Linked DNA regions of Homo sapiens: region 1 is linked to region 2. Evidence: fine-mapped QTL for protein levels in blood plasma. A gene starts in region 2. The other region holds a variant in brackets. All regions are shown on one strand. Distances are from middle to middle.

Region 1 (11,533 bases), 24 kb after region 2:
CAGGAGCTTTGGAAGTGTCTGCCTGTAGGGCATGGACAGTCACTTCACCCTTCCGTGCCTCAGTTTCCTCATCTGTAAAAAGGGGACTGTGACCCTTTGGGGCTTCCTCCACCGTCCTTTACTGAGGAAGAGGGTGGGGTGGACACGGGGCAGCCATTTCAACCGCATGCACGGGACACAGAGTGGGAACTGACTCTTACCATGCTGGCATTGACCTGAAAGCTACAGCTGTGGACACAGGAGGTCTGGTTTGTATTCAGAGACGGGCTCAGCTGCCACGGAAGGGTGGGCCTCTCCGCAGCCAATCTGGCCTGGAATTTGGGAAGGAGCAGAGTCCCTGGAAGGGAAGAAGGGTACCTTGATGAACGTTGCACAGAGGCCGGGGAGGGCCCCAAGGGGAGCCGTGTGCACCTGAAGAGGGGTGTGGGCTTCAGCAGGGCCTGGGACAGCCCGGAGCTGGGGGTGGGGGAGGGCAGGCCCTTTCTCCTGAGTTCCATTCTTGGGGCCAAAGCGGATGGCATGAGGCCACCGTGCAGTGAGAGAAAGGAGGGAGACGAGGGCCAGGGGCAGTGCGGCTTGGCACGGAGACCCTCTGCCCGGCTCCTGGACCCGCCGGTCCATGTGGCTGCGAGGTCCTGGCCTGGTTGAGCCACGTGGGGAGCGTGGGCCTTGGGCGGGCGAGTTCCCGTTCCTCTCCTCGGAGCACAGGGTCAGGGGGAAGTGGGGGCAGCGCGACTCTCCCCTGCATGGCCCCCTGACCCTGGGCAAACGTGGGGAGAGATGGCGCCTGAGCCCCGATGGAAGCTGTCAGTGGGCCCTGGCACACATTCTCCCACGGGGGCGGACTTAGGTCCCAAAGTGACCCCCAGCCTCGCGGCGGCCAGGGCGGGCCGAGTCGTCGGAGCGCGGCGGGACCTGGGGCCAGGTGGACCCCCCTCCCCGGGCTGCGTCCACCCCTGGCAGAGGGGCGGGCTCCGGGCGCGAGGCCCCAGGCGAGGAGGAAGAGGGTGCGGGCGGCGCCTTGGAGGTTCCTGCTGTTCCTGCTTTTCGGGGCGGGGGCCTTCCGGGTCACTGTCCCGCCAGCTGTTGGATCTGCACCAGTAACTTCTCCAGGAAAATCCCCCGGAGAGGAGGATCTGCCCGGCGGAGGGGAGCGAGTCCCCCAGCGCGGGGACAGGGCGGGCGGAGCGGGGCCTGGGCCAGGCCTGGTGCCTTTGTGCAAGGACGGGCCCCGGGCTGCCCAGGCTCCTGTGAGCAGGGGTGGAGCGGGGAGGCCGCAGCCCCCGCGGAACACCGGGCGCCCCCGGCCTCCAGCAGTGGGAAGCAGCCCGGGGGCTGACGCTCCCTGCAGGAGCCAGGAGCAAGCAAACAAGCAGCTTGAGTGCAGGCGCGGGGACGGGCCGGGGGTGCCTGCGGGTGAAAGGGCGGCTCAAAGGGACAGTCGCTGGAGGCCCGGTCTTGAGGAGGTGCCTGGAGCAGACCCGGGCTGGGCGCTGCGGGGGAGGGAGGAGGTTGCGGAGGCCGGCGGGCGGGAACGGGGAGGAATTCCAGGTTTCAGGCAAAGAAAGACGGCAGGACTGGGGAAAAGGGATCCTGGACAGGAGACTCCGCAGGAGGAAGGAGGGGGCCGGTAAGTGGGCTCCTTCCAGCTGGGGAGCGGGGCTGGAAGGGGCTGGAGACGCGAGTTTCAACTCATGGGATTTATGGCTTGGAAAGACCCCTCTGCCCTTCGGGGGCGCTGGGGTCCCCAGGGGAGAGATGAGGGCGGCAGCGAGGGCCCCCTCGTGCAGTGAGATGGAGCGAGCTCTCGGTGGGCTGAGGGAAAGAGCAGCCCAGGGGCTTCTAAGAGACCGGGAGGGAACCAGGCTGCTTCCAGGGACAGGGAGGGCCTGGGAGGGGAGAAAGGGCTGAGGAAGCGCTTGGTCAAGTTCAGGGGGAGAGGTCCCTCCGCACTCGCAGTTGTGCCCTGTGTCACCACGATGTTGTTCCCAAAGTATTCTTCTGGTGTTTTTTTTATTTTTATTTTTTCCTTCTTTTCACAGGTGTTGACCCAAAGTATTTTCTCTCATGCCTGGCCACTCTGCCCTGGACCCTCAACCCAGCCGAATATGACACATCTCCAGAAACCCAGCAGGCGCAAGCCGCAGGGTTGGCCTTAAAATCCTGCTTAAACAGGAGACCCTGGAGGCCTGCTTCAGTGCCACCAGCCTAACCGCCAGGGCTCATCAAAGACGCTGCCCAGATGCATTGAACGTAAGCAAGATCAGCAAAGGTTTATCTCAACTTCAGACTCACTCCCAGAAACTCACTCTTGGGAGCTCTCTGTGGAATTGGGCCCCCCTTCTTCTGGTATTATGTTTTCAAAACTGACAGGGATATGAAAGAAAAACTTATCCAGGAAAGAAAATTGGGTTGAACATTTAACATCTCATTTAAGTCTTGCAATAATGGCTATATGTATTTTTGCTAAATAAATCTTCTATTAATCTTTTTTTTTTTTAAAGTTTGAGATGTCTGCAGAATGGGCATGTGGTTCATTAGAGTGACCAATACCCCGGTGAGTGACAACACTTTGTGTGCGAGGCTGCCGGCCGCCAGGCCCTCTCTCTCGCTCACTGCTTTGGGGGCATCATTTTGCACAGCCCCTGTGGAGGGTGATTTGGGCTTCCGGGTCAGGCTGACAAATGCAGGAACCTGTGAGGCAGCCATTCTCCTTCCAGGAATGTACCTTATCCATGCTCTACCAGCTATGCAAAGCAACTTGAGTGCCAGACTAGTCACTTCAGTTACAGTAGCAACATACTGGAAACTCCCTAAATGCCCATCGGCAGACACCAGGGAAATCACTGCAGTGCACCCAAACAATGGAGTACTATGTGGCGGTGAAAAAGAATGAGGAAGTTCTCTCTGTTCTCATGTTGACATTCAGGACACATAACGTTAAGTGGAAAAAAGCACAGTGCAGAGCAGAGTTTGTGGTGTGTGTGTGTGTGTCTGAGAGAGAGAGAGAGAGAGAGAGAGAGAGGTGAACAGGGTTGGATGGGGACAGAAGTTAGGAAGGAGGTATTTGGCCGTATAGCTTGTAAATTTTCATTATGAGGCATGTGAATGTGTTATATTATTAGCATTTTATAACTGAACATTTAACTGAGAAAATGAAAGTGGTGTTGCTGGAGATGGGAGGAGAGAGGAGGAAAATACTTTAGTGTCTCAGGGGTAGGCTCAACCAGCCATGTCCAGCGCCTCTTTGAAGTGGGTTCATCAGCAACCTGTGACTTGGCGTGAAGCCAAGTTCAGCGCTGAGGTGCAGACTGTAATCACAGGGCTGAGTTTAACCAAGACTCTGGTTTTGTCAGGCGATCACTATGGAGGATGATAGCTGAGCCGTGGGAGGGGCTTGCCAGGGAGAAGTCATACCGATGGGCGATACCCATACTGACTGCTGCTATACCCAGCAGTCCCTGGTCGCCCCCAGAACTCCCATCCTCTGACCCTGTGCTGCCTTGCAGCCCCTCAGCCCCCCATGCATGCCCCCCATGCATGCCCCCACCATCCCTGCAGTGAGACCCCGCAGCCTCCTGAGATGCCAGGTAAGCCATGCACAGCCAGGTGCTGTGCCTCAGAACTTGCTGCAAAGCTACTTATGCAAGGCGGGGGAAGCCGTCCTGGGAGGCTGTGCAGGTGAGCAGCCAATAAACAAGTGAAAAGAAACCCCCCTCCCTCCTTGTTTGTCTCTCCAGCGCCCTCTACTGACAGTGCACAGCACCGTGCCAGCAGGAGAGAGGGAAAAGTTCCAGAATCCCCAAGTAGGGCAGTGAAAGATGGGCTTGGGTCAGAGGCAGTAGATGGATAGCAGGCAGTTGCTTTCCATATGCACCCTTTTACACACGTTTAACCTTTTCTAAAAATTCCAGTAAATGCAATACATGTATCCTTCCCACAAGTGAAGATGCACTCACGCTGTCTCCAAAATGAGGAGACAGTGAGGACAAGGTGCCAATGGTTACTGTAGCCACTGTTGGCTCTGTTAATTACACCACAAATTCAACCACAGTCCACTGAATATCTTGTTACCTGAAGACTGAATGGTAACACTAACCTCCAAAAAATTGTGTGTACAATACAGATGCCAGCGAGAGAAAACAGGAAAATGGTTGGCATGTGGAAACAAACACGTGAAAACAAGCAAAGGAAACTAAGCAAAACTACTACACTCCTTGCTTCCGTGACAGTTGGGAGCCGAGGCTTGAAGTCCATGGTTCCTTCTCCCATCACTCATCCTGGATTTTCCCCTCCCTCAGCCGGGACCTCAGCTAGTTGGTGATCTTTACTTGATGAAACAACTAAAACTTTCATTTCAGAAGGTTCTGAGTCCTCAATTTTCCTGCCTTTCTATGGCTGGGGTAGTTTTCCATGAACCTTTTCTATTGGCCATGGAAATAGTCAGAAGTGCCGCAGAGAATGAATGCCCTGATTTCCAGACATAGTAGCAGCTGCCTGGTCTCCCAGGAGAATCAGAACCTATCACTGCAGTCAAGAGAGCAATCATTTTTTAGGTCTTTTGGTGTCATGACAGAATGAGCCCCAGATGGCCAGGTGGCGGCATCATCTTTCAATTTAATGAAACCATTGCTGTGTCTCCTGGTTGAAGGATGTTCCTCTCCGGGACTAAGACCTTCACATTAGCAGAGCTCAAAGTTGCTGCGACAGGAAGCAAAAATCCTGCCAGCTGGTTGTTATTGGGGGTAATAGTAAGTGGATCCCCCTCATATCAACTGGTTGCATGGAGTTCTAATCGGGGAAGAGGAGTCAGGCTGGGGGGAGCAGGGAAAGCAAAACAAACAAACAAAAAACAGATAAGCTATAAGCCTGCCTTTCTACATGGCCCAGGACACACAGAGCCCTCCTAAGCAAATAACTCACAATCTTCCTGTGCCCATCTTATCGCCAGATCCTCAGCCGATAGACAAGTGTCAGTTAGCTCGCTGCAACCTGGGCATTATCAGCACTGCGCGTGGCCCTCTCCAGCACAAGCACCATCCTATAAAATCCCCCACAAGTCTTTGTCTCCTTGTAGTCAGCTCCCCTTTTGCTGATCTGCCCATTGCTTTCTTGCAATGTATTTTCCTGTGTTCTCTAATAAGCCTGCCTGTCTTTACCTACAACTCTCTTGGTAAATTCCTTTATTGCATGCGCCACTGGTCCTAGTTAGTCACTACCTGTGACAGCT[T/G]GGTTTCTGGAGCCATGCATTTTGGCTATAAGGGAAGTAGAACCATGTGGTGGCCCCTGATTCAAAGCGTATATGGAATCCTGTAAAATAGAGTCCATCTTTCCTGGGTATTGCCACTCAGTCTTTTGCTGAGGCTAGCTCCTTCTGGGTGATAGAATAAGCAGTAAGATCAGTGAATTCCACGGCCACGAGCCACTGTGGCATTTCCTTGGTGGTGAAATGGGTTCCTTGGTCAGAAGCAGCCCTGCATGGAAGCCATGATGGTGAAAGGCATCACGTGAGGCTACAAGCAGCAGTGCTGCAGAAACACTCTGGGTAAGGGAGGCAAAGTGTGTCCCTTCCAGGAAGGTGAGTCTGTGTCCCCTCCATGATGGAAGAGACCAGGACCCACCTGCTACCAGATGCTGGCTGCTCTCTGTGGGGGAAGGTGCCATCAGGCACTCAGTGCTGCTCTCTGGGGTTGTGAGAGGGGGCTGCCAGCAGTGAGATTAGTCAGACCAGCCTGGAGAGATGAGCCCGTGTTGCTGGGCCCATGCGTAGCCTCCATCTTGGTCACCATAAATACATTGTTTGTGGGTTCATTGAAAAAGCGCTGGTGTGGCTAGGGAATTGTGTCCCCCCAAATTCATCTTAAAATCGTAACTCCCAATGTGGCCCTACTTGGAGCTAGAGTGTTCACAGAGGTAATCAAGTTAGAATGAGGTCATTGGGTGGCTCTAATCCAATACGACTGGTGTCCTAAAAAGGGGAAATTTGGAGACAGACACAGGGAGAATGCAGTGTGAGGATGGAGACAGATCAGGGTGCTGCTCCTGTCAGAGGCATTCGAACCAGAGTGACTCCATCTTGAATAGGGGCTGGGAAAAATGAGGCTGGGGCCTGCTGGGCTACATTCCCAGGAACTTAGGCATTGTTAGTCGCAAGAGTTTACGGTTGAGGGAGCAGATTAATAATGTTTACTAACAGACCTGGAATGTCCTGATGTCCCAATATCTTGAGAACGCAAGCATTCCTAGTTTAAGACGTTTTGTTTTAAAGATAATATCGATTCTTGTGAAAGATGGTAATTACAAAGATTAATCCTCTATCACAAACCCTTGTAGTAAAGCACATCTCCTATGATTTTCGTATCTTAAACAGGCATTGTACTTAGGCTGGGCTTGGTCCTCCTTTTACTTTAAGGAATGCCCTTCTCTGTCTATAGTCATTCTTTTTTTTTTTTTTCTTAAAAAATATATGTATATATTTTGGGGGCTCTATTTTACAGGATAATATATATATGTATGTATCTTTTGTATATATATTTGTGTTACAGGCCGAAAGAATGAGGGTGGTGATCAGTTCAGTATACCACTGGAGGCTCTATGAGTAAACAGCAAACTGTTTCTCATAAATGCGGAATGTTGGCAAACTGACAAACTGTGTCTGCCACCCAGAAGGGATGCTGAGGGCAGTCACTCCCCAAACGCAGTGTTTCTTGAGATTAGGTACATCTGAAGCCTGTTAGTAATAACATGAACCTGTTATCAATTAGCAGCCGACCAGTCATTACCTCCTCCTCCCTGCTCTTGCTACCCAATAAATATGAAGGGCTATGGAAGCTCAGGGGCTGCCTTTGTCCACTAGAAGCAGGGAGCTCTCTTCATCCTTCCCTGGACAGTTCCTTTCAAACAGTTTCTTTTGTCTTCAGTTTTCATTTCTACGTTTGTCTCTTCGTTCAGTCTTGTAATGACGGTCTCAAGTAGTAAAAGTAGTAATTGTTGTGGGGATGATCTCAAGTAGTAACCGTGGCAGTCAGCCACATATTTGTATATATATATTTACAGGATACAAATTATATATATATATATTTTAAGACAGAGTCTCACTCTGTTGCTCAGGCTTGAGTGCAGTGGCACAATCCTGACTCACTGCAACCTTTGCCTCCCAGGTTCAAGCAATTCTTGTGCCTCCGCCTCCCGAGTAGCTGGGATTACAGGCACACACCACCACACCCGGCTAATTTTTGTATTTTTAGTAGAGATGGGGTTTCACCATGTTGACCAGGCTGGTCTTGAACTCCTGACCTCAGGTGATCTGTCTGCCTTGGTTTCCCAAAGTGTTGGGATTACAGGCGTGAGCCACTGGTCCTTGTCAAAAATATATATATATATAATATATATTTTATATTTTATGTTTTATATATATAAATATAAAATATATATATTTTATATTTTATGTTTTATATATATAAATATAAAATATATATTTTATATTTTATGTTTTATATATATATATATAAATATAAAACAGGCGTGAGCCACTGGGCCTGGCCAAAATATATATATATATTTTATAGAGACAGGGTCTTACTATGTTGTCCAGGGTAGTCTCAAACTCCTGGGCTCAAGCAGTCCTCCTGCCTTAGCCTCCCAACATGCTGGGATTACAGGCATGAGCCACCATGCCCATCCAGGAGTAGCTATTCTTTCATTCCTTTACTCTCTTAATAAACCTGCAGCTAGGTGTGGTGGCTCACACCTGTAGTCCCAGCACTTTGGAAGGTCGAGGCGGGCAGATCGCGTGAGTCCAGGAGTTTGAGACCAGCCTGGGCAACATGGTGAAACCCTGTCTCTGTGAAAAATTTAAAAAATTAGCCAAGCATGGTGGTGTGCACCTGTAGTTTCAGCGGAGGTGGGAGGATCACCTGAGCCTGGGAGGTGGAGGTTGCATTGAGCCAAGATCACGCCACTGCACTCCAGCCTGGGTGACAGAGTGAGACCCCATCTCAAAAGATAAAATACATAGAATAAAACAAACTTGCTTTCACTTTGCACTGTGGAATTGCCTCTAATTCTGTCTCGTGTGAGATCTGAGAACGCTCTCTTGGGGTCTGCATTGGGGCCCCTTTCCAGTAACACTTCTACAAGCCAAGAAAGGCCAGAGATTGACAGAAAACTCCCACAGCTGGGAGACGGGCTGGGATGGAGTCTCCCTCACTTCCTCAGAAGGAGGCAATTCTGCTGACACCTTGACCCCAGACTTCTAACTTCCAGAACTGGGAGATGGCACGTTTTTAGGGCCTAAGCACCCGCAGCTTGCGGCACTTTGTTGCAGCATTCCTAGGAAACACACAGGGTCTGGCTGATGACTTCACAGAACTTCCTTCTTTTACCTGATTCAGCCTCTTCTGAAGGGGACACCCTTTGCTGAGCATTTATATGATGCGCAAATGTTCCTGTAGTCTGTGTCCATCTCGAGAGGCTGACCGCATACTTCTTCCTCAGACATCCTTGTTACCAAACTTCCAATCCTTTTCTTCCAGGTCCCCGAACATCCAACCAAACTGTTAGCAGCTGTTTCTAAGTGGGCACGGATTTGTACCTCTGGGCATCTCTCTGTCTGCATGTAGTGGACAGCCGAGTGAATGGCTCAAACTGTGCGCCTAGGGAGGGTTCCTTCGCTACCGGGGCTCGGCCGGTGGAGCTGTAGTACTCATGTCTACTTTTGTGGGAACTGGCATAGCATGCCGAGCCCTCTGTCACCAGGCTCGAGTTTCTTCCTCAGCCAACTGGGTGTGAGGAGTACCCGGGGAGGCTGGAGGCATGGATGGGGAAGGGAGACAGGGCAGCAGGGGTAGGTGCTGAGGGAGTCTGGGCCACCTGCCTTCCCTGTGAAGTTCCCATGCCGTCTGGACCCACCCCAGCTTGCCTCTACTGCGTACATGGACTGAGAGGCCACCGCTGCAGATCCCACGCCTGGTGGCTGGGTGGGTCCAACCATGCCCGGCCCCTAATGGGAACTAGGCTGAATGATCACCTAATGACACAGGGGTGGGCGTTCAGACTCGAATCCCAGTAGAAAGCGAGAAGCAGTTTCTCAGAAGGAAACTAGTTATCTACAGAAGAGAGCACAGAATTGCTCCACAATTCTAGAGGTCCGGACTGCAATTTTCCCATTGGCGCTTGTCATGGATATGTTGAGCAGCAGTGGCTCACAGGGCTGGGCGGCACAGAGGCTTGTACGCATAGAGCAGCCCAGGCCTGCAGAACCTCCTCTTGCTCAGCCTCTTATGGAAACTGGCTGCCTTATGGGGCACTCGGGAGATGGGTCATGGTAACACACTAAAATGTGTTGGGCCAGCCTGGTGGCTGACACCTGTAATCCCAACACTTTGGGAGGCTTAGGCACAAGGATTGGTTGAGGCCAGAAGTTTGAGATCAACCTGGGCAACATAGTGAGACCCCCAAAAGCCCTTCCAAGCATTTGCCTCTTTCTTCATAGTAGGTAGTGGGAGGTGTAGCAACTTGCCTTCACCTTAGAGTGAATATTTCAAAATTCTCCAGCCCAAATAACCCCCAAGAAGCTTAGAAATCACAGGTCTCAAATTTGGGGGGATTTATCCCCCATCTTCTAGCTGACATATGTTTTATTAAAGCTTCTAGAGGATGTGCTATTTCTTATCAGATCCAATCAGCTTTATATCACCAATGCAGGGGGCCAGTGTAGTGGTGTGTGGAATGTTAAATAATAAAGATCAATTTGGCCAGGCGCAGTGGCTCACGCCTGTAATCCCAGCACTTTGGGAGGCCAAGGCGGGCAGATCACTTGAGATCAGGAGTTCGAGAACAGCCTGGCCAACATGGTGAAACCCTGTCTCTACTAAAATACAAAAATTAGCCAGGTATGGTGGCCCACGCCTGTAATCCCAGCTACTTGGGAGGCTGAGACAGGAGAATCGCTTGAACCCAGGAGGCGGAGGCTGTAGTGAGCCAAGATCCCGCCACTGCACTCCAGCCTGGGTGATAGAATGAGACTCCGTCTCTAAATAAATAAATAAAGATCAATTCATAGAGATGGAAAGTAGAATGGGGGTTGCCAAGGGTTGGGGACAATGGGGATTTATTGTATGATGGGTGCAGAGCTCCAGTTTTGCAAGGTGAAAGGAATTCTGAAGATGGATGGTGATGATGGTTGCACGACAATGTGAGTGTGCTGAATGCCACTGAAGTGTAGACCTAAAAATGGTGAAAATCGTGAGTTTTATGTTATGTATGTTTCACCACAATTTAATAAATAAATACAAAGTATAAAGGAAAAAAGGAACTGAAGCATGGATTAAAATAAAGGATTTTCATGTTGTTTGACTACATTTTAGAAAGCAGTGTGTTAGGATCTTGATACTGTAAGAATGGTTAAGATACTAGCAGCATGGGTACTGCCGGGAAAGGTTTTAGAAAGTCAGAATGCCTGCCTCAGCTGGGTGCAGTGGCTCACACCTGTAATCTCAGCACCTTGTTAGACCAAGGCAGGCAGGTTGGTTAAGTCCAGGAGTTCGAGACCAGCCTGGGAAACACAGTGAGATCTCATCTCTACAAAAAATTAGCCAGCATGGTGGTGTGTACCTGTAGTCCCAGCTACTTGGGAGGCTGAAATGGGAGGATCACTTGAGCCTGGGAAGTGGAGGCTGCAGTGAGCTGAGATGGTGCCACTGCACTCCAGCCTGGGTGGCAGAGTGAGACCCTGTCTCAATCAATCAATCAATCAATCAATCAATCAGTAAAAAGAATGCCTTCCTCAGACCTACTAGATCAGAGTCTGCAATTGTACAATCCCCAGGTGACTCATACAAATTAAATATTTATCTGAGCTTTTTTTGAAGTATAAGATACAAACAATAAAGCTTACTTAAATACAAAAATAAAAGATAACAAAGCCCTTTCAGCCGGAACCGCCGTTTTCCAGTAATTCGCCAAAATGACGAACACAAAGGGAAAGAGGAGAGGCACCCGATGTATGTTCTCCAGGCCTTGTGGAAAACATGGAATTTTTCCTTTGGCCACGTACATGCGAATGTATAAGAAAGGTGATACTGTAGACATCAAGGGAATGGGAACTGTTCAAAAAGGAAGCCGCACAAGTGTCACCATGGCAAAGCTGGAAGAGTCTACGATGTTCCCCAGCATGCTGTTGGCATTGCTGTAGACAAACAAGCTAAGGGCAAGATTCCTGCCAAGAGAACTAATGTGCGTATTGAGCACATGAAGCACTCTAAGAGCCGAGACAGCTTCCTGAGACGCGTGAAGGAAAATGATCAGAAAAAGAAAGAGGCCACAGAGAAAGGTACCTGGGCCGGGCACTGTGGCTCACGCCTGTAATCCCAGCACTTTGGGAGGCTGAGGCGGGTGGATCATCTGAGGTCAGGAGTTCGAGACCAGCCTGACCAACATGGTGAAAACTCGTCTCTACTAAAAATACAAAAAATTAGCCAGGCATGATGGCACGCACCTGTAATCCCATCTACTTGGGAGGCTGAGGCAGGAG
Region 2 (11,411 bases):
GCTGGTCAGTGGGCACCTGCCGGCCACTGTGCTGCAACAAGACTGCCGCTGCAGAGGGCGGGGTCCACAGTGCCCCAGGTCACAGGATCAGATCCTGCTGGGAGCCACCCAAATCTCAGCCTGGCCTCCTGGGACCCTGGTCTTGGGAAACACTTGGAGGGGAGTGAAACTTGGACAAGTCACACCCACCCCTCGGTCCATCCTCTCCTGGGCCCTGGGGGCCTGGGCCTCTCCAGGGACACCCTCACTTCTGTCTGCACATATGCCCACCCATCTATTAGCAGCCTTAAAAATGTGTTAAATGCTTAATAATGTGTTGGGTAGCAATACGTTCACATAGGTCAAAATTTAAAAGATACGCAAAGGGTATAGGGTAAAAAGTCCCCTTCTTATCTCTAGTCTTCCTGCTCCCATTCCCAGAAGTGACCGAGGTTCCTTGCGGGACACTTGAGTTGTTAAAAAGGGATTCTTGCCCAAGGGATTTATATGAATGGTGACATTCTGGGCATTGGTGAGGAACCTGTTTTTGCTGGAGGTGGTTGACAGGATAGGGCAGTCGTTTCTTTTTTTCTTTTCTTTTTTTTTTTTTTTTTTGAGATGAAGTCTTACTGTGTCACCCAGGCTGCAGTGCAGTGGAGTGATCTCAGCTCATCACAACCTCCACCTCCCAGGTTCGAGCGATTCTGCTGCCTCAGCCTCCCAAGTAGCTGGGATTATAGGCACCCACCACCTTGCCCAGCTAATTTTTTGTATTTTTAGTAGAGACAGGGTTTCACCATGTTGGTCAGGCTGGTCTCAAACTCCTGACTTCAAATGATCCTCCTGCCTCAACCTCCCAAAGTGCTGGGGTTACAGGTGTGAGCCACTGTGCCTGGCCTGGGCAGTCGTTCTTGATCCCTATAAACATCAAATGAGGAACTCAAGGCTCTTAGACGGATAGAATCCTCAAATAATGGGCTCTTAGAATCTTGGGGAAAACAAAAGTCACCAGTAGAGGGTCGTGACTGCAAGTTGTCCATGTTCTTGGCGTTTTGAACAAAGAATTGGACAAAATGCCCAGCAAAGCAAAGAAAGAATGAAGCAACGAAAGAACGAAAGCAGGGATTTACTGAAAATGAAAGTACACTCCACAGTGTGGGAGTGGCCCGAGCAGCAGCTCAACAGCCCAGATACAGAATCTTCTTGGGTCCAAATATCCCCTAGAAGTTTCCCGTTGGCCACTTCATGCTCACCTCATGTAAATGAAGTGGTGGCCTGCAATCAACCTGATTGGTTGCGGAAAGCAGCCAACCAGAGGCTGAAGTGAAGTTACAAAGGTCACACTCCTGTGCAAACATCTGATTGGTTGCAAAAAGCAACCAGTCAGAGGCTAGGGTGAGGCCGGGCGCGGTGGCTCACACCTGTGATCCCAGCAGTTTGGGAGGCCAAGGCAGGCAGATCACTTGAGGTCAGGAGTTCAAGACCAGCCTGGCCAACATGGTGAAACCGTCTCTACTAAAAATACAAAAAAATTAACTGGGCATGGTGGTGGACACCTGTAATCTCAGCTATTCAGGAAACTGAGGCAGGAGAATTGCTTGAACCCGGGAGGCGGAGGTTGCAGTGAACCGAGACAGCACCATTGCACTCCAGCCTCCCTAGCAGCTGGGATTACAGGTGCCCGCCACCACGCCCAGTTAATTTTTTTGTGTGGGTTTTCCTTTCAATATAGTTCTAGGAAGTAGGAACGAAACAGCCTTAGGTTCCCTGCCTCCTATTCTCCTGCCTCATCATGAGAAGCTCTGCTGTTTGTGGGGCGCCCACCATGTGCTTTACTCTGGTGGTGTATGATGTTCCTGCTTTCCCTGGACTCAGGGCTGGCATTTCGAATCAGCTTCTGGACTCAGACACCTCTGGGCTGGAATCCTAGCTCTGCGCCTTCCTAGCTGTGTGACCTGTGTGAGTCACTCCACCTCTCTGGGTTCCATCTCCCTGTGTAAACTGGGGAGGATTACACAAGAAAATGCAAGAGTTGGCTGGAGGAGGGCCTGGCTCTCCAAGAGCATCCTCCTACCTGTGGCATTCGTTGTTATTTATCTGCACTACCTCCTTTAAGCCATCCCTGCCAACCCTCTGAGTGTGCCAGTGCCATCTCCAGGAGGTCCCAAGGAAATGTCACTGTCCCAAGCAATGTATGGAAAGACACAGCTCTAAGCAGTGGAGTACCAGGGCCCAGGTGGTCTCCACGCCTCAGCCCACAGTGGGATGCCCTCCTTCTCCAAAGTCTGGAAGTCAGAGCTCCTGGCTGTCCGGCAAGGAGGGGGCTCCCAGAACCTGGGCTGGAGGCAGTCACAGGGCCTGCGTGGTTTTTGAGCAGCCTCTGTTACAGTAGACAGACGTGAGCAGGGCAGGAGAGCACCTAGGAATGTCACGCAACCATCAGGTGATAGGCAGTTGTTACACTGTCTCTCTAAAATAATAATTGGTCGCAGCCAGCACCAGGGAAAGGCAGTTTCCCAACATAGGTGTTTCTCTTACATAGAAGCACCTAGTACTAGTGATCAGCAACTTCCCGATAAGATCTCAGGAGTCGGGTGAGTGGGCTCAAGCATAAGCACTAAGAGGCAAAATGGCAGAGCTTAACTCATGTATGACCTTCCTCGGGAAACCCTCGACGGGTAAGGGAAGAGCGCCTCACATGAGCATGTGCACCACTTCAGTAAACACACCGCGCATGCGGCCCCTCCCAGGTGCTGGCATGGCAGGCCATGGCGGCGCGTGCGGACAGCCCAGCCCAAGGGAAGAATCCTCAGAAAGAATGCAATGGCCCCCCGCCGGAAGTGGAAGCATGTCAACGTATAAAACCCCAAGTCAAAGGTCAAACCACACACTAGAATCCCTCAAGTCACCCGCTTGGCCTTCCAGGTGTACTTTCCTTCCTTTCATTCCTGCCCTAAAACTTTTTTTTTTTTTCTTTTTTTTTTGAGACAGAGTCTTACTCTGTCACCCAGGCTGGAGTGCAGTGGTGCCATCTTGGCTCACTGCAACCTCCGCCTCCCGGGTTCAAGCGATTCTCCTGCCTCAGCCTCACAAGTAGCTGGGACCACACCTGGCTAATTTTGTATATTTAGTAGAGACAGGGTTTCACCATGTTGGCCAGGCTGATTTCGAACTCCTGACCTCAGGTGATCCGCCTGCCTTGGCCTCCCAAAATGCTGGGATTACAGGCGTGAGCCGCCACGCCCGGCCACTTTTTTCTTTTTCTTTTTTTTTTGAGACAGTCTCACTCTGTCGCCCAGGCTGGAGTGCAGTGGCGCAATTTTGGCTCACTGCAACCTCTGCCTCCCGGGTTCAAGCCATTCTCCTGCCTCAGCCTCCCAAGTAGCTGGGACCATACCCGGCTCATTTTTTATTTTTAGTAGAGACAGGGTTTCACCATGTTGGCCAGGCTGATTTCGAACTCCTGACCTCAGGTGATCCGCCCGCCTTGGCCTCCAAAAGTGCTGGGATTACAGGTGTGAGCCAGCGATCCCACGATCCCAGCCTTTTTTTTTTTTTTTTTTTTTTTTTTTGAGATAGGGTCTTGCTCTGTTGCCCAGGCTGGAGTGCAGCCACATGATCTGGGCTCACTGCAACCTCCACTTCCCGGGTTCAAGTGATCCTCTCACCTCAGCCTCCTGAGTAGTTGGGACCACAGGTGCCCACCACCACGCTGGCTAATTTTTGTGTTATTATTTTTATTATTTGGTAGAGACAGGGTTTTGCCATGTTGCCCAGGCTCTTTCTCTAAAGCTTTTAAATAAACTTTCACTCCTGCTTTCAAACTTGTTGCAGTCTCTCACTTTGCCTTAGACTTCTCAGTTGAATTCTCTTTTCTGAGGAGGTAAGAACTGAGGTTGCTGCAGACCTGGATGGATTTGCTCCTGCTAACATACTTCAGTGCTTCATGACTTGGATATAGTCTCTCCCGGTAACACCTCCCCTCCCCTCCTCTTCCCTCCCCTCCCCTCCCCTCCTCTTCCCTCCCCTCCCCTCCCCTCCTCTTCCTTCCCCTTCCCTCCCCTCTCCTCCCCGACTTCCTTCTCCAAACAGCCCCATGAAGCAGCACTGGGCTTCCCAAGAGAGGTCCTGCCACGTGACTGGCCTCTGTCATTGGCAGAACCCTGCATAGGCCGTAGCTCTGCAGCTGTTTTCCTGGAAATTATGCCGGCTCCGAGAAGGGCCCATGTTCTACAGGAACCCCAGGCAGAAGGGACCGGAGCTGCACTTAGGCATTTTGCATCAGTACCAGAGAGCTGTGGTGAAAGACTAGAGTTTTAGGAGAGCTGAACTTGGGGAGGAGAGTGGCCGCTTGCAGCTGGCATAGAGAACTTCCTATGCCCATGAGTTCCACCAGGACCCACTCCTCCAGGAAGCCCTCCTACACCACACTATTTGGAAGGCCACTGGGGTTGGGGTCCTGCTGCCCCATAGGCCCTGCTTTCTCTCCCATGGCCCTTCTCCAGCAAGGACAGTGGGTCAGGCTCATGGAATAGCTGCAGAAGCCATACCTCATCAGGCCTCGGTTTCTCCATCTGCCAAATACGAAAAGGAATCCTTGGCCTGGCTTCCTCCTAGGAGGAAAGGGGCAGGGGGGCTATCAACAAATCGACAGTGTCCCGTGGGGCTGGGGTGGGGCACCGCCTGATGGTACATGTCTGGGCTGCTGAGGGTCCTCATGCTCCCTCCTTTGCAGGAGGGGATGTGCCGTGAAAGTGGCTCCTGGTCAGCTGTCCTGGCCATCCCACAGTCCCGGAGGAGGTCAGCAGACTTCAGCCAGGGTCTCATGGAGCTGTAGGTGATGCTGAGCAAGTCACTGCTCCTCTTGGGGAAGGCTGGGTGGCAGCAGGGACCTCAGGCTTAAGGCCTCAACCTCTGTGCCTGCTTCTCTGAGACTCAGTTTCCTCATCTGTCAACAGGGAACACAATGGCCCCACCCCATGCAGACAGTAGGGCATCCCCAGGAAGAGTCTCAGGGCTGGTGACAGCCTGAGAAGTGAAAGGGAGAAGCAGGGTGAGTGTTGGGGTCCTGGGAACCAGGGTTAGGGCAGTGGGAAGTGCAAGTCATCATGCAGAGGGAAGTGGGCCCGGGCTGCTGGGGGAGGGGCTAGGTGACCCACCCTGAGGTCAGCACCACTCTTGTGACCAAGGCTAGCAGCTGCAGCCACGCCTCTGGCCAGGCCCAGCCACCTATAGGCCCTCTGCCCCTCGTGATCACCCACCACCCTGGGCCCTGCTCCAGGTTGCTCTCCCTTCTGCCTTCGACTGCCCTCTTCTTCCTTTTTTTTTTTTTTTTTTTTTTTTGAGATGGAGTTTCACTCTTGTTGCCCAGGCTGGAGTGCAATGGCGTGATCTCAGCTTACCGCAACCTCTGCCTCCCAGGTTCAAGTGATTCTCCTGCCTCAGGCTCCCGAGTAGCTGAGATTACAGGCATGCACCACCACACCTGGCTAATTTTGTATTTTTAGTATTTTGTATTTTGTATTTTTAGTAGAGACGGGATTTCTCCATGTTGGTCAGGCTGGCCTCGAACTCCCGACCTCAGGTGATCCGCCCGCCTTGGCCTCCCAAAATGCTGGGATTACAGGGGTGAGCCACCATGCCCAGCCCCAACTGCCCCTCTTCTAGAGAGCTTTCCTCTAGGTGCCTTCAAGAATGCAGAGAGAGGGCCAGTAATGTGCCTCCCTGTGTTATTCTCTGGTCCGTGCTGAATCGGCCTTTTCTGCTGCCCTACAGGGCGCAGGTGGAGGTTTAATTAATGGACTAAATGAGGTAATGAAAAAGATTGGGAAAAATTTTTTTCAAGGTGAAAAAGGAGTGAAGGATAGTACCTCCCATTTCTGCATCTAAACTCCTTGGTCTAGAAGTCCTTTCTTGTGTCTGACTTAAATACATCAAGCTGAATTTCAGACGCTGAGCAACGTTGGAGGAGAAGCAAGATAACACTGTGCTTAGTGAAGGGGCTCCTAGCTTCACCACTGGCTGGCACATGACTGGACCGCTCTGTGCCTCAGTTTCCTCATCTGTGAAAAGAAGAGAGTTAGTGCCCACTTCATTAGGCTGTCCGATGAAATCGGCTAATGTATACAAAACACTTAGAACAACGCCTGGCACCGGTGGAGATCAACAAACATCAGCAGTCTACCCAAAAGAATTGAAAGCAGGAACGTGAACAGATATTTGCATACCCGTGTTCTTTTGTTTGTTTGTTTTTGTTGTGAGACAGGGTCTTACTCTGTTGCCCAGGCTGGAGTGCAGTGGTGCAATCATGGCTCACTGCAGCCTTAACCTGCCAGGCTCAGGTGGTTCTCCCACCTCAGCCTCCCAAGTAGCTGGGGCTACAGGTGCACCCCATCACACCTGGCTAATTGTTTGTATTTTTGGTGGAGACAGGGTCTCACTATGTTGCCCAGGTTGATCTTGAGTTCCAGAGCTCAAGCGATCCACCCGCCTGGGCCTCCCAAAGTGCTGGGATTACAGGCATGAGCCACCACACCTGGTATACACACCCATGTTTTATAGCAGCACTGTACACAGCAGCCAAGAGGTAGCAGCAATCCCAGTGTGCACAGAGAGATGAATGAATGCACAGTGTAGCCCATCCATACAATGGAATATGATTCAGCCTCAAAAAGGAAGGGAATTCTGATACCTGCTACCACATGAATGAATCTTGAAGGCATTATGCTGAGTGAAATAAACCTGACAACGCCCTCCTGGCAGATGCAGACACAAAAGGATAAACGCTGTGTGACTCTATTTATTTGCAGTACATAGAATAGTCAAGACCACAGAGACGAAAGGTAGAATGGCGGTTGCCAGGGCCCGGAGGAGAGGGAAAGAGGAGTTAGTGCATAGTGGGTAGAGTTTCCGTTTTGCCAGGTGACGATTTCTGCAGGTGGAGGGTGCTGTTGGTTGCACGACCCTGTGAATATACTTAATGCCACTGAACTGTGCACTTAAAAGATTATAAATTGCATTATGTATATTGTACCATAATAATTTTTAAACAGTCAGCTGTCATTGCTCTGGCAGACAGAAGGGAGGGAACATCCCATGTGTCGTAGCCTCTGAGGCCCTGGGTTGCGTGCGAGGAGCTGACCGTGGCTCCTGGCCAGGTGCTGGCACACTCGCCTTCTAGGCTAAATGGAGAGGTCATTGCCAGTCTGCTCCTGTCTGCTGCCCTCCCCACCAGGCAGAGCCCCCTGCTCACTGCCCCTGGCCTGTGCCCTGGGGAGCTGGGGAATGGGACAGCCGCTGGCCACTGGTCACAAACATCGCCACCCAGCATGTGATGCTGGCTTCCTGCTGGGGAGGAGCCGTAGGCTGGCCTTTGGCTCCTCTGGAAGTGCCTGGCCTCTTGGGAACTGCTTTCTGCATCTGCGAGAAGAGGGTAAGGACTGCTCCTGCCCTATGGGCCCCATTGGCTGTCATCCCTTGGGCCTCCATGCTGCCCCATTTTCAGAAGACTTTCCTTGTCTTGAGGACTTCACGTATGTTACCATTGACCCTCATGCCTGAGCTTAGAGAGGGGAAGTGACTGGTGCAGACACAAGTCCAAGGCAGCAGCCTCGTTTCCCAATCCCCAGCCGGTGCTCTGGGCGGGCCACTGCCGTCAGTGGGGGACAAGGGTGGCAGCCCCGCCTCAGCCCTGCAAAGCCCGTGGAGACCAGGGGCTGCCTTCGAGGGGACAGTGGGGCCTAAGGCCTGACAACGCCCTCCTGGCAGATGCAGACTTCCCGAGCAATTTCCCGATCTGCTTGGGAATGGGAGGGGGGGTGAGGGGGTGGGGTGGGGGAACAGAGTCTGGCAGGAGAGGCTTGTGGGGATTGCACAATGAGGCCACAGCAGCCAGCCGTGAAGGCAGCCACCGGCCAGGGCCCCTCAGCCCGTATCCTCATCGCCCCTGTGTGGATGAACTCCATCTGCGCGGTGCCGGTGGAAGGACCCTCCCAGCCCCGGGACACCGCGGCTCTGTGGACTCATCTGAAAAATGTCATCCCTGGAGTCCTAGGAGAGAAGGGGTGGGGTTGGCAGCCTTAACGCCCCATCCTGCATCCTGGCGGCCTCCCGCATCCGCTCCCCCACAGGTTCCCCAGAGACAGGATGATGGATGGCAATCCGAGTGCAAACCTGGCGCTTGGCCAGCACTCTGGAAGAGGAAGTTCTCAGTTCCCAGGGCACCTGAACCCACAGCCGCCCCCACTCCGCTGGCCCCCCTGGTCCTGGAAGACCTGTTACTAGGCTGCAGAAGGGGTGGCGGAGTGATCAGGGGGCGGGGAAAGAGGCCAAACAAAAGAGGGGAGGAGCAGAGGCCCCAGTGAGGCAGGAGGGAAGCCCCTGCCCAGCGGGAAATTCCTAAATGTCTGGGTCCTTTCCAGAGGGCAGGAATTCCTAGCCTAGAGTGTGAAATAAGGAAGGAAGTGAATCTCCAGTGGGTTCCCTTCACAGCCCCTTTCCATCCTCCCCACATGCCCCACCCCCACATCTCCCAAAACAAACCCTGAGAGACGGTGTGGATGGGGAGACAGGCCTGGAAACGGAGGCCTGCGCTGAATGGGCAAAGCCGGGTTGATGATCCAGACGAGGCCCTGGAGTCTGGGCCTTGGGCCCCTCCCCTTCTGCCTGCTCCGGCAGCCTGTGGGTCCAGCCCCAGCCCCAGAGGGGGAAAGGCTCCAGTGGGAGTCCCATAGGCCTGGCTAGGAACCCCACTCCGCTACTTAAAGTGGTGTGAGCCGGGTCAGCCACTTCACCTTTCCGCATTTACGCATTTCAAGCAAGGCTTGACGACCGGAGGGGCTCAAGGCCCTGTGCACAGCCGCGCGGCCAGCACTCTGGCCAGCCTTGTAGCCCCCTTCCCCTTAGGGGGCCTCCTTCAGGAAGCCCCCGTCCCCTGCCTCCTTGTGGCCACGGTGACACCGGAACACTTCAGAGGGGCGGCTGGGGAGTTGGGGTGGGACGGGCTCTCCCGCAGCTGGAGCCGGTGTGTGACGCGGGAACGCGGCCAAGCGCGCCCCATCCAGGCGGCCTATCAGGAGCCGTCGTCGGACAATGGCTCCGCGCCTGACAACCCCGTCGTCCCCGTGCCGTCCCCCGAACTCCACATACCATGCGACGCGCGGCCAGCCCCCCGCCCCTGCCCGGCTGCTGGGAGGAAGTGACAGCGCCCCGCATCCCCCGCTGGGCAGGCCGGGCGCGCCCAGCCCCTGGGACGCAGGGACACAGCCGGGCCGCGCTGGGCCTTGGCCTCCGCCCGCGGGTTTTCCGCGGTTGCGGCGGGGCGGGGAAGGAGGGGCGGGCGGGGCGGGGCTGACTCTGCGACTATTTCAGGCCTTGCGGAACCCGGGCCAGGACAGTGGCGGCCAGGCCGGGACACGGTAAGTGACCTCCGCTTCCACACGTCCATTCCCCGCCGCTCCGCGCGGCTTCTCGCCCGCCCCTACCCCGAGGCCAGGCCGGATTCCCCGAGGAAAGAGCCTGTCGCCGCGGCGGGGACAGGAGGGGGCTGGACGCTTCCAGGGAAACTGAGGCCCTGGCGCGCCCAGCGTCCGCGCGTCCGGGCGCAGAGGGGCCAAGGCTGGCTGAGGGCCCGGGCCTGCCAGAGGCAGGGAGGGCGGGGCTGGGGCAGGCGCAGGGGTCTCCCCTCCATTACAGCAGAAAGGCCCCAGGTCCGGCGTGACTCCCCGGCCGGGCGACACAGGCCGAGTCACTTCCTCGCCCGTGCCCGGGTGTCCTCATCGGGGGATGGGTGCGCCTTCCACATCCTGCCCAGGACTGAAGGAGCCGGGCCCAGCGAGCTCCCGGGAGGTGTGTGGACATCAGCCCTGACGGGGAAGGCGAGCCAGGTCAGTGGACCTGAGGAGAGGCCGGGCAGCAGGAGGCTGGGGGGCGCTGTTGAGCCACTGGCTGTGACCCCTCTACGAGCCTCCCAGCAGGCCCCTTCCTGCCTCAGTGGGCCCAACCAGCGGCAAGGCTCAAAGGAACGCCCCTCCTCCCCTTCTTCCTTTCTGGCTGCACCGGCTCGCTGCTGCCTGCAGGACAGACTCAGGACACAGGAGACTCACCCCCACTGAGGCCCAGCTAGGCGCCCAGCACTTGGCTGTGCGGTTTGGCCACATCCCCTCAGCAGCACTGTGGGGTGGGGGTCCTCATCCCCTTTTCAAAGACGGGGAAACGGCGGCTTGTGAAGGAAGGAGGTGTGCAGTCCACACACTAGTGAGAAGTGTGCTGAGCCCACACCGAAAGCGTTTCTCTTTCCATGGCACCAGCTGCCTCGGAGAGCGGAGACCTGGGGCGAGGCCCAGGGGGCTGCAGCAGGACCTTCAGGCGCTCTGGGTTTCGTGTCACAGAGGGGAGAAGGCGGTGATGCTGTGGGGGTCCTGCGGGAGCTGTGCCTGGAGGTGGGACAGAGCCTAGTACATGTGGGGTGGGACAGGGAAGGCTGAGGTGAGGCTGGCAGGGAGCATTGCTGGTAAGGGCCACCCTCCCCCACCCCAGGAGAATGGCAGAGGTGGGGCCTGGGCACCCAGGGTGGGGCTGAGTGGCCCTGCCAGACAGACCAGCTCCCGCGGGTGCTAGGCATGCACCTGAGAGGGGCTGGGAAGCGAAGTTGGGGCACCGGGTGGGGAGCAGAGGTGCCCCATGGCCTTGCCCCTGGGGCTCCCTGGAGCATGCCCCTCTTGGTCCTGGAGTGGAATGCTCAACCCAAATGGCACTAGGGAGGCCAGTGCCATCCAGGAGTGTGGGACTCTGCCCAGGGCACTGGGTGAGCATGGCAGGGGCTGGGGGTGGGAGGAGCCCAGGCTTCCTGTCCCTCAGGTGGCTCTGGCCAAGCCCCTCCAGGATGGGGACAGGGTAGTGGGGCTGGTGGAGGCAGCGGGGCCATGGGAAGAGTCGGATGGGCCCAGTCTGAGCCTCCATGGCTGCTGTGCTTGGGGCAAACACCTCCTACTCAGCCTCAGTTTCTCCTTCTGGATGGTGGATCATCCTGCCTGCCTTGCAGGGCTGTTTCAGGGGTCACTTGAAGTTACCATGATACATGAGACAAGGCTGCATGCATTTAGTCTTGGGGTGGGGCAGACAGGTGGCATCAAGGTTACAGGTCACCCCAGTTCTTGGGGAGGCCCAGCCCCTGCCTGCTTCCCCCTTTCAGATCAGCCATGCTCTTCTCCAGTGGACCTGGCCTTGCTCTGACAATGGTCAGGTGCTGGGCAGGGACTCTGGGGAAGCTCGGGTCTTGCCTCTCTGGATGTAGCTTGCAGGATAGCTGGGGATGTGGAGGCAGGGGAAAGCTGGGCTCTGGGACCGGGTGGCCTGAGTTCCAAGCCCAAGCTATTGACTATAGGGACAGTTTAAGCCGAAATAACACCCTTCCAGATGAGAGAAAGGAAGAG

Which allele goes with the higher level. Alleles are on the strand shown, and positions count from the first base shown. The strength of an association depends on the size of the effect and on how common the allele is.
For the plasma level of the protein whose gene starts at base 9,373 in region 2, T is the high allele of the variant in region 1 and G is the other (weak association).

The links. PIP is the posterior inclusion probability: the model's chance that the variant is causal. The UK Biobank Pharma Proteomics Project read protein levels with antibody pairs (Olink). The fine-mapping took linkage between variants from a reference panel, not from the people measured, so its PIPs are less certain.
Region 1: its variant is fine-mapped to the plasma level of the TNFAIP2 protein (UK Biobank, PIP above 0.99).

What each region holds. Positions count from the first base shown.
Region 1 is chr14:103,137,631-103,149,163 of GRCh38, forward strand. It overlaps the pseudogene NDUFB4P11 and the pseudogene RPL21P12. Among named protein-coding and RNA genes, the nearest start is that of TNFAIP2, 20 kb to the left of the region's middle. RefSeq lists enhancers at 2,687-2,736, 2,767-2,816. The variant T/G (reference allele first, on the strand shown) is at 5,231.
Region 2 is chr14:103,114,089-103,125,499 of GRCh38, forward strand. It overlaps TNFAIP2 (TNF alpha induced protein 2), which reads left to right and starts at 9,373. Exons shown (of 12, transcript NM_006291.4): 1 at 9,373-9,863. LINC00677 (long intergenic non-protein coding RNA 677) reads right to left here and starts at 8,821. Exons shown (of 2, transcript NR_138038.1): 1 at 8,521-8,821; 2 at 6,761-6,943. RefSeq lists enhancers at 8,304-8,836, 8,837-9,370 and silencers at 9,035-9,314, 9,615-9,664.